2 separate regions of the Homo sapiens genome follow, and region 2 is linked to region 1. The links come from fine-mapping of genetic effects on gene expression. A gene starts in region 1. The other region holds a variant in brackets. All regions are shown on one strand. Distances are between the middles of the regions.

Evidence for each region.
Region 2: its variant is fine-mapped to the expression of ZNF550 in lymphoblastoid cells after a statin (CAP, PIP 0.95).

What each region holds. Positions count from the first base shown.
Region 1 is chr19:57,557,191-57,562,572 of GRCh38, forward strand. It overlaps ZNF550 (zinc finger protein 550), which reads right to left and starts at 2,673. Exons shown (of 4, transcript NM_001397372.1): 1 at 2,466-2,673. The coding sequence starts at 2,492. LOC124904781 (a long non-coding RNA gene) reads left to right here and starts at 2,752. Exons shown (of 2, transcript XR_007067357.1): 1 at 2,752-2,928. RefSeq lists enhancers at 1,715-1,794, 1,939-2,803, 2,245-2,294, 2,781-3,980, 2,925-3,034.
Region 2 is chr19:57,627,205-57,632,586 of GRCh38, forward strand. No RefSeq gene overlaps it. Among named protein-coding and RNA genes, the nearest start is that of ZNF211, 3.3 kb to the right of the region's middle. The variant CT/C (reference allele first, on the strand shown) is at 3,132.

The DNA.
Region 1 (5,382 bases):
GGAAGGCATCTGTCTCCTGCTTGTCCCTGGGAATGGAATGTCTTGGTGTAAAACCCGAGCGTACATTCTATTTACTGAGATAGGAGAAAGCCGCCTTATGGCTGGAGGTAAGACATGCTGGCGGCAATACTGCTCTTTACTGCACTGAGATGTTTGGGTAAAGTCAAACATAAATCTGGCCTACGTGCACATCGAGGCACAGCACCTTTCCTTAAACTTATTTATGACACAGAGTCCTTTGCTCACATGTTTTCCTGCTGACCCTCTCCCCACTCATTACCCTATAGTCCTGCCACATCCCCCTCATGGAGATGGTAGAGATAGTGATCAATAAATACTGAGAGAACTCAGAGACTGGTGCTGGTGTGGGTCCTCCATATGCTGAGTGCCAGTCCCCTGGGCCCACTTTTCTTCCTCTATACTTTGTCTCTGTGTCTTATTTCTTTTCTCAGTCTCTCATCTCCACCTTGCAAGAAATACCCACAGGTGTAGAGGGGCAGGCACCCTTCACTAAGTCCTCTGGTCCTCACTGTGTCCCTGCCAGGCTAAGGCTTCCTTAGCCGTGGTAAAGCAAATAAAGGCCTGACTTAAATCAGGCCTCCTGAATCTGACACTTGCCAGCTATGTGACTATGACGATGTCACATGATCTCTCTAAGGCTCGATTTCCGAATCAACACAATAACTATTCCCATCTCAGCAGGCAGCTCTAAGAACTAAACAGAAAATGTTCACTTAGGCAATCAGTGGAGTGCCTAGCACATGTAAGTGCCTGATGTGTTTGGGAACTTTATTAATCCCCTGACAGGCCCAGAGGTAAATGTCGTTATCACTTCCATTTCACAGTCAGCAAAGGCTCAGGGAGCTTTAGAAATCAGGCACAGCCTCACATTTAAAAAGCAAAAGCAGCATTTGAGCACCGCTAAAACACCTCACCAAGCTGCCAGAGAGCAGGCAGGTGGGAGTGAGGGGTGCTTTTAGCTACAGCCAGCACTGCCAGGATGGGTGTGGAACTGCAGCCCCGCAGAGACCTGAGAACAATGTCTCAGACAAAGGGAAGTGCAAGGGCAAAGGCTGAAAATGGGAAAGAGCTTGGCAAGCTCAGGATTCCCTGGATGAATGCAGTGAGAAAGGGGACAATGGAAGAGGAGAAAGAAGATGCGGTCAAAAGGGCAAACCAAGTACAGCCTTGCAGACCATGCTGGTAGGAGGGGGTGGATTTATTGGAAATGTGATGAGAGTCCCTATAAGAGAGGCCTATTCAATCATCAACCATTTATTAAGTACAATAAATGTACTTAAGCCTGGCTGTTCTGGGTCTTGGGAGAGGGAAGCAACAGGCACTCACATTCCAGGGTTGGAAAAAGATCCTAAACAGGCAACTAAATAAATGAGTAAGGCAATGTCAGATGGCCTTAAAGATTCAGATGACAAGAAAACAGAGCAAGGAGACCAAAGAGACTCTGGTCAGCTTTAAACGGTGCAACAGACGAGACCTCTTTAAGCAGCGGACACCAGAGGGAGTCAGAAATAAAGCAAAGGAGGGAGAGGTGGATGAGAAATTAACAACTACGACAGGAGCTGACAGTAATCTGGGCTATCATGAAAGTAATCAGAGTGACTGCTAGAGAGTAACCCTGGGCCTCATGTGTTATCTCCAAAGGGACACTACATCCTGCATACCATCGCCACTGAACATTTTAATGGACTCGTTTTTCACCTGTAACTAAATGTCTTAAACAGGAAAATATACTGTTAGTTGCAACCCAGCGTCCCTTGCCCTAAACTGAAAGACAAATTCCTCAGCCTGCCCTACCACCTTTTCTGCCCTGGCATAGCAGCAACCGCAGAAACGCTCCTCCCACCTCTTTCAGCCGCTGCCCTTCGTGTTGTAGAGACAGGAGGCCAAGGAGGCCAGAGGGTCAGACTCCTGCTGGGGTTGAGTCTCCAAACCTAGCACAGGCCCAGGGAGCAGCTCCGGAAACAACATCCTGAGCGACGTCCCCGGACCGTGCTGTGCACTGAGACGGACACACACACATCACCCAGGGAGCCGTTCAAGCTTCCTCAACCCCGGGGGGGGGAAGAGTAAATATTTCTACTTTGCGCGCGCAAAAATGAAGGACGAGGACAGTAACGGGACTTGTTCAAGGTCGCAGGCCCGAGAAAGGACATGGTTGGAAGAGCCACGAGGAGGACTGCGGTCGCTCCTCTCACCTGTGAGGGGTTCCGGGACCCTAAAAGCCCTATTTCATACCACAACGCCGCGCACCCCAGAAACGGGGACGCTCCCCACGCCACCGCGGGCCTGCATTCCGGACCCGGGACCGCGCGACCCCCTTCTAGGCCTCTAAGAAGCAACGGCAGGGACTGCACTGAGGACGACCCTGAAACGCCGTCCTTCCGCTCGTCGGGCCCGGGACACTGAGGCCGGGTGGCCGCGGGGAGCCGAGCCAGTCTGCTCACCTGCGCTGCGTCCTTCGTCTCCGCCATCCGACCGTTGGCAGGACGAGGCCGCGTGGGGCAGCTCCCACGGGCTCAAAACCCTACCCCGGGTCCTACAACGGTGCGGAGGTGAGCCCCAGTCGCCCTACCATCCTTCCCAGCACAGTTCTGAGAGCGCGGACCAACACGCCCCACCACAAACGTCCACGCCAGCGAGGCCGGAAGTCCCGCCCCTGTGTCGCGGTCGCCTGCCACGCCTTTTCCTGCGCCGGCCCACTGCCTTCTAGGTAATGTAGTCTTGTCCCGTAAGAGGCCAGGCTTGGCTCTTTTTCCTTTTTTATTATGCACACCATGTTTCTGTATATCTCAGATGATCTTAGCGGAGCAAGTGTACACACTGGATTGTAAATTTTTAAAACTTCCTATTATTCGGATGCCTCAACGTCCCTACAAGCAGGCTGTGAGCACTCGCCCAGGCACCCAGGTAAACGAGTTTGATAAAGGGGGCCCTGCCACGAGGTTCCCCGCTTGCCTCCTCTGAGTGACCCAGTGACATTCCCATGTACCAGTAAAATCTTACGCCTGGTTACTGCGTCCTCCTCCACCCTGACGCCAGGCACTGTCCCTGGGACTGGCGTGGATCTGGACCCCCGCTTCCCGCGTGGAGCCATTCCCGGGACATGCTCGTGGGGTTCCGTCTGTGGGACGTCTGCCTCCTCTGTGTGGACTGGTGTTGCCCAGGGCTCAGGAAGGTCTCCAGGGGCCGTGAGTCCCCGCCCGCTTCCGGAGTCCAGCTTCGTGACACCATCGTGAGAAAGAATGCAGGGATGAGTCAAAATGAAGCCAAAGGCAAGAAGCTTTTATTGGGAAGAAAAAGTACACATTTTTGAGAAGAGTGTACTTTTCCCAAGAGAAGAGGGAAATGCGGACGTACGAGGGAGAGCGGGTCATGCACAATGGAGTTTGGGTTTCTAATTTTATGGGCTCTTCTAATTAGGGGGTGGGATAATCATGAGGTTTTTCTAGGAAAAGGTGGGAATTTCTTAGAATTGGGGTGCCAACCATTTTTATACTAAATGTGGGCGTGCTTGGATTGGCCTGGCACTGGTGGGTGTGTGATTTAATGTGGCAATGAGTGTATAATTAGGTCTGGGGTAGGAAATGGGTCAAATCTAGCGTCATGGGACAGCCTAGCCCCAATCCTGTTTGTTAAGGTCTCATCAGCCCAGTCTTCTTGTTGGAGTAGCTAATTTTAACAGCTTGATGTTTTCCCCCTTCTCCTGTGACCACACAGCATTCCTATTTTGTGGGTGTTTCTTTAATTAGAGAGTGGAATAATTATTAGGTATTCTGGAAAAGGAGGGAAATTCAGGGACCCACCTGGTTACTGCCCCCTTTCTCTCTTATTTGGCTTTGCCCAGAAGAGTCATGGACATGTCATCCTGACTGGGATTTTGGCCATTCTTTCTCTTATTTTGGGTTTTCTGTTATCCTATGGTTTCTTTGCCTAGTTCTTGTTTTTATTTGTTGTTCGAATTTTTCCATCCTCCTGCAACCACCCAGTGCTATTCCTATATCACTGTGAGTATAAACACCCTTTAACCTTATAGGCTTCTTGAAGTATAATTCCCAAGACCATGTTGCAGTGGTCCTTAAAGAACCAATAAGGCAGAGAGAAACAAACATGTTCCAAATTTTGTTCTCAGGAGTAAACCTTACTCAATTGTTAAAGGCTGTAGCTAGCTCAAAAGAAGTTTCCTTGACTCTGAAAAACAAAACAAGGATCAGCAATGTTCCAAGCAAAAGTCAAAAAGATTATTTCAGTTTTTCTATTAGTTCAGCCTATTCTGTTAACTCTTGTTCTGCTTGATATTTATAAACATTTTAGCTTTTCATGAGTCCTGTATGTTTTTCAGTTATCAGAAACCTGCATTTAGGAATACCTGTTAAAGTATTCCTACATCTGATTATGAACCATATTTTGAAGAGGATTAAAACAAGACAACAATTGTCTGTAAATGACAAAATGTCCAGGGTGGTTAGTCAAAAACATGATTGACAAAAAAAATTTGGTTATCTCCGTGGTTTACAATAACAACATAACAACCTTAATTGTGGTTGATAGTGTATACTTTCACATTAGAGTTTTCTAAATCCCATGCAGTTTTGGAACACATATTAATAGTATTTGCTGAAATATAACCTGAAGAAGATTAGACATCATTTTGGCAATCCCATGTAACAAAACATGTCAAATAATCCTGCTTGCCTCTTTTCTGGATGCCCCAGGGACCCTCTGTAGCATCCAAAACGTAGGTGTCAAGAAAGACAATTGATTTGTGGAAGCCTGTTAAATATGTTAACAGGCTTAAAATATTTGATGTTATGTACTAGAATTCCAGATTACTATAAGTTATTTATTTTGCCAAAATGATGACTCAAAAATTTGAAAAAGCAAAAACCTTTCATTAGCCTTTACTATTACATGAAAATTGTGTTCAAGAGAGAGAAAGCCAAATTTCACCCTTACATTAGTGTACTATTAATGTCAACCACAATTTTTAATGAAACAATTATAGGCAATTCTATCCAATCTTAACCAGTTTGACAATGAGGTGAGATTTTCACAAACCTTTTATAACCCTTTACAAATTTTGCTAAAGAGTAGATTCATGCATTAAGAGTTCTTTGTTGTGCTTTTATTTCAATGCTCAATTTACAGAAAACCACATAATACCCTTTTGAATGTAGTCAATATATTCACACAGAGTTTCCTTTGCAAGATTAATTCTTACAATTTTTTCCCCAGTTTGCTTAAACCTTCAGTTGTATTTTATCTACTTTAAGACAATTCTTTATCCCTAGGCAAAACGTACATTGCCATGCCTTCTTATAATTTTTTACAAAAAACACATTTTACTGTTTTTACACACATTGC
Region 2 (5,382 bases), 70 kb after region 1:
GGTGGTCTATGCTTCTGAGTCCCTCATAGTATGTTCCTTCTGAGTATTTGTATTCTAAACCTCAAAATTACAATTTTTTGTATAACATTTCTTACTGGATTCTCCAAGATATAATCTACTTTTTGAAGAATATGACATTTATGTAGAAATAGTGGTTACTTACCAAACTGGTATTTGCTACTAGGAAAGTAGCATCAGTTTTTGGCATGGGCATCTGAACTCTGAGAATAAGGTTTGGGATTCCATGACCTCATCTCCTTGCTGGGAAGTGATGGTCATTTTATTCTTCCACCTGTAATTGCAGTGACAGTGTCTCCAAGAGGATTGGAGATGATCTCTGAAAAAAATTTTTGAAGTTAGAAAATTGTAGAAAGTTATTAACATTAATTACTGGAGTTATCCATTTAGAATGACATCATACCTAAAAGAGAAAATTATCTGTGAAATGGGAACAAATAAAGGTAAATAGAGGAAACAGTTCTAAGACATGGGACATGTAAGTTGAACCCTTGGTTATGCTGGAATCTTGGCTCCTATGAAATTTTTTTTTTTTTTTTTTTTTTTTTTTTTTTGAGATGTCTTGCTCTGTCGCCCAGGCTGGAGTGCAATGGCGCGATCTCGGCTCACTGCAACCTCCGCCTCCCAGGTTCAAACAATTCTTCAGCCTCAGCCTCTCAAGTAGCTGGGATTACAGGCGCCCACCACTGCACCTGGCTAATTTTTGTATTTTTAGTAGCGATGGGGTTTTGCTATGTTGGCCAGGCTGGTTTTGAACTCCTGACCTCAGGTGATCCGCCCGCCTCGGCCTCCCAAAGTGCTGGGATTACAGGCGTGAGCCACCGCGCCCAGCCGAAATTCTTATTTCTACAAAGTCTGACATTTTTTCATTCATATGAATGGTGAGGAATAACAAACTTGGAAGGAAAGAAATAGTAAAAAGAGAGTGAGAGTACAAAGGTGAAAGAGTTGAGGGAAAGCATTACTCAACATCTTATCTGGTTCAGAGGCTCATCTAGATTTGTATTTACAGCAGTGAACAACCTACAAAGAAATGTATTCTCAAGTAGGCTTTATTCAAATTAAGAGATGTGGTCTGGAAATAATAAAGAAAATATTGGAAAATATACACTAAGTTATAAAGAGACAGATTCTATGGAAAATATCAGAATACCAGCACCAAGTAATAACGAACACGTGAAGTAGGTAGAATTTCTATAGGAAATTTCTATAGTCAGGGTTGTCCTTATAGTGGAGATAATATTTGAGCATATATTTAAAGCACAGCAGAGAGAGAGTGATTTGTAAACACAGAGAAAATGTGCTATGGAAAAGAAATAGCCAGTACAGTGTCCAAAAAGCCTGGAAGTGAAAAATCATGTGGTCAAAGCACAATTCAAGAGTGACTGGTGATGGTTTTTATACCATCAAAAATCTCCCCAATGTGCACAATTACCCATGTATCCATTCACATGCCATTATCTCAGACCTCCTTGTCAACTGTCTTCTCAAACATATTCTTCCTTGCCCTTGATCACATTGCCAGGTCATGGACTGCTATCCTGTAAAATACTTGTTCTTTGGACACTTATTCCTCCTCATAAAAAGGTTTACAAGGTATGCCACTTGTGACTTCACCTATGGGGAAAATTTTGATCCCCAACTATCTTTCAAGAGGATGCAGAATATGGCTCTGAGGCAGCCACAGTTTTGTTTTGTTTTTTTTTTTTTGAAATTTATCTTTTTTTCCCACCCTGCCTTATGGTGCTGACACAATCTTTTTTATTACTAGGTTTTTAAGAGCACTTTTAGGTTTGCAGTAAAATTAAGGGGAAGGTAAAGAGATATTCCATATACTCCCTGCACCTACATAAGCATAGCGCCCCTCACCCCAACCGCAGTGGCACATTTGTAGCAATTATAAACCTACACTGACACATCATTATCATCCAAAGTCCCTACTTTACTTTAGGGTTCACTCTTAGTGTTGTACATTCTATGTGTTTGGACAAAGGTACAATGACACGTGTCCACTATTAGAGTGTCATCTAAAATAGTAATCCTCTGTGCTCCACAAATTCATCCCTCCTACCCTTCTAAACCCCCAGCAACCACTGATCTTTTTACTCTTTCATACTTTTACCTTTTCTCAAATGTCATTAATTGGAATCATACAGTATATTGCCTTTTCAGATTGGCCTCTTTCATTTAGTGGTATGCATACAAGGTACCTCCATGTTTTTTCACGTCTTGAAGATTCATTTACCTTCAGCATTGAGTAATGTTCCATTGTCTAGATATACTACAGTTTCTTTTCTTTCTTTGTTTCTTTTTTTTTTTGAGACGGAGTCTCGCTCTGTCGCCCAGGCTGGAGTGCAGTGGCGTGATCTCGGCTCACTGCAACCTCCGCCTCCCGGGTTCACGCCACTCTCCTGCCTCAGCCTCCCGAACAGCTGGGACTACAGGTGCCTGCCACCATGCCCAGCTAATTTTTTTTTTTTTTTTTTTTTTTTGTATTTTTAGTAGAGACGGGGGTTTCACCGTGTTAGCCAGGATGGTCTCGATCTCCTGACCTCATGATCCGCCCACCTCGGCCTCCCAAAGTGCTGGGATTACAGACGTGAGCCACCACGCCTGGCGATATACTACAGTTTCTAATCCATTCACTTACTGAGGGACATTTTTGTTGCTTCCAAAGTATGCCAATTTTGGATAAAACTGCTATACACACACATGTACAGGTTTTTGTGTGGACATAAATTTTCCACTCATATGGATAAATTCTGAAAAATATGGTTACCGTATTGTATGGTAAAAGTGTGTTTAGTTTTGTAAGAAACCACCAAACTCCATTTCAAAGTGGCTGTACAACTTTGCATTCCCGTCAGCAATGAGAGCTCCTGTTGCTGTACATTTTCTCAACCATTTGCAGTTGTCAGTGTTACAGAGGTTGTTCATTCTAATAGATGTGTAGTGGTATCTCAGTGCTGTTTTAATTTTTACTTCCCTGATGACATATGATGGGGATTATCTTTTCATACACTTATTTGCCATCTGTGTATCTTCTCTGGTGAGGTATCTAAACCTAAAGTCTTTGCCCATTTCGTTTTTTAATTAAGATGTTTCTTTTTTTT[CT/C]TTTTTTTTTTTTTGAGACGGAGTCTCACACTGTCACTAGGCTGGAGTGTCGTGGCATGATCTCGGCTTACTGCAACCTCCACCTCCTGGGTTCAAGCGATTCTCCTGCCTCAGCCTCCCAAGTAGCTGGGACTACAGGCATGCGCCACCACGCCCAGGTAATTTTTGTATTTTTTAGTAGAGACAGGGTTTCACCATGTTGGCCAGGATGGTCTTGATCTCTTGACCTTGTGATCTGCCTGCCTCAGCCTCCCAAAGTGCTGGGATTACAGGCATGAGCCACCAAGCCCGGCCCTGAAAAATTTACACAATTATACAAAACTTACTTAACCTATGCTTCATTACCTCATGAGGAGTACTGGGAAGTTTTGAGTACGTGCAATGGATGGAAACATTGAATTTGGACATAAAGAGTTGTGTCCTTTTTTTTTTTTTTTTTTTGGAGTCTTGCTCTGTCACCCAGGCTGGAGTGCAGTGGTACGATCTCGACTCACTGCAACCTTCACTTCCCAGGTTCAAGTGATTCTGATTCTCCTGCCTCGGCCTCCCGAGTAACTGGGATTACAGGTGCCACCACCACGCCCGACTAATTTTGGAATTTTTAATGGAGACGGGGTTTCACCATGTTGGCCAGGCTGGTCTTGAACTCCTGACCTTAGGTGATTCGCCCACCTCGGCCTCCCAAGGTGGGAGCAGCAATCACACCTGCTGGGATTACAGGTGTGAGCCACTGTGCCCAGCCAGTTATGTCATTTTTCACTAGTTTCTCAGTTGATTACCTGAAAGTATGAATTTTTAAAGCACAATAGGATTCAGCAGTCTCAGGTAGGAAAAAGGTAACCTGGAAAGATCCCTGCATGTGAATGCACACACAGCTTTCAGGGATCTGAGGAAATTCAGCATGTGTAGGATATAGAGGAGATACATGGTAGGAGGTGAAGCAATATGTAATGGTTGGTTCTGTAATATAGGCCCAGCCAAGAACTCTAACCTTTTTCCTAAAAACAATGACAAGCCCATTGTGAGATCTAACCAGATGTACAATAGTAGTCATTCCACTTATAAATTTTTGTAGTAAATGTGTAAACAAATACATTATATATTTGATAAAATCATTTCACAACTTTTAATTTTATTTTATTTTACTGGTATTAATTTGTCCTAAAGGATCATTTTTATTGTGAAACGTAAAATTTGATCTATCTAATATATATAAAATGTATATGTGTACATTTAACAATGTGCATATATGTACCTTAAAATAATATAAACTTTCTGGGCGACGGAGTGAGGCCCTGTTTAAAATAATGATAATAATTTGATATTTTATGCATTAAAAACTTTTGTCTGGGCATGGTGACTCATGCTTGTAATCTCAGCAGTTTGGGAGGCTGAGGCAAGAAGATTGCATGGCCCTAGGAGTTTGAGACTAGCCTGGGCCCTATAGGGAGACTCCATTCCTACAATAATTTTTTTTTTAACTAGCCGGGTGTGGTGGTGTGCTTGTAGTGCCAGCTACTCAAGAGGCTGAGGTGGGAGGATCACTTGAGCCCAGGAAGTGGAGGCTGCAATGAGCTATGATTGTTCCACTGTACTCCAGCCTGGACAACAGAGTGAGACCCTGTCTCAAAAAAAAATTAAATGTTTTGATTATACAAGGAAAATGAACATTCATGTATTAAAGCTTCATGTTTTATGAACAAAACTGACTTTGCAGGCAGGAGAGCGTTTTCTGGGGGCACCAGAAGCAGGGAACTTCCCTTGTCCGTTGGCTTCAGGGCTGCCCACTATCCCTCCACTATCTTCCCATTGTAGCCCTGTCTGGTGTCTTTTGTCCCTGACAAAACCTACAAAAAGTGACTTTAACACTTCAGGCTGCATGCATTTGAAGAGCAATAAGATAACGTTTTTTCGCTTCCCACTACCAGTGGAGATCTGCTGGGGTGGGCTGCATGGAATCTGAAATGATGTCTAAATACTGAAGTGAACCTCTACACTAGAGACTGATATACAGCTGACCCTTAAACGACGCAGGGGTCAGGGATACCGACCCCTGCGGAATTGAAAATGCTTGTATTACTTTTGACTCCCCTAGGTCTTAACTACTAATAGCCAACTGTTGCCCGGAAGCCTTATGAAGTTGCCCGGAAGCCTTATGAATTACATAAACTCCCAGTCGATTAACACATTTTGTATGATATATGCATGATATATGCATAATATATATGATATATGCATTTTGTATGATAT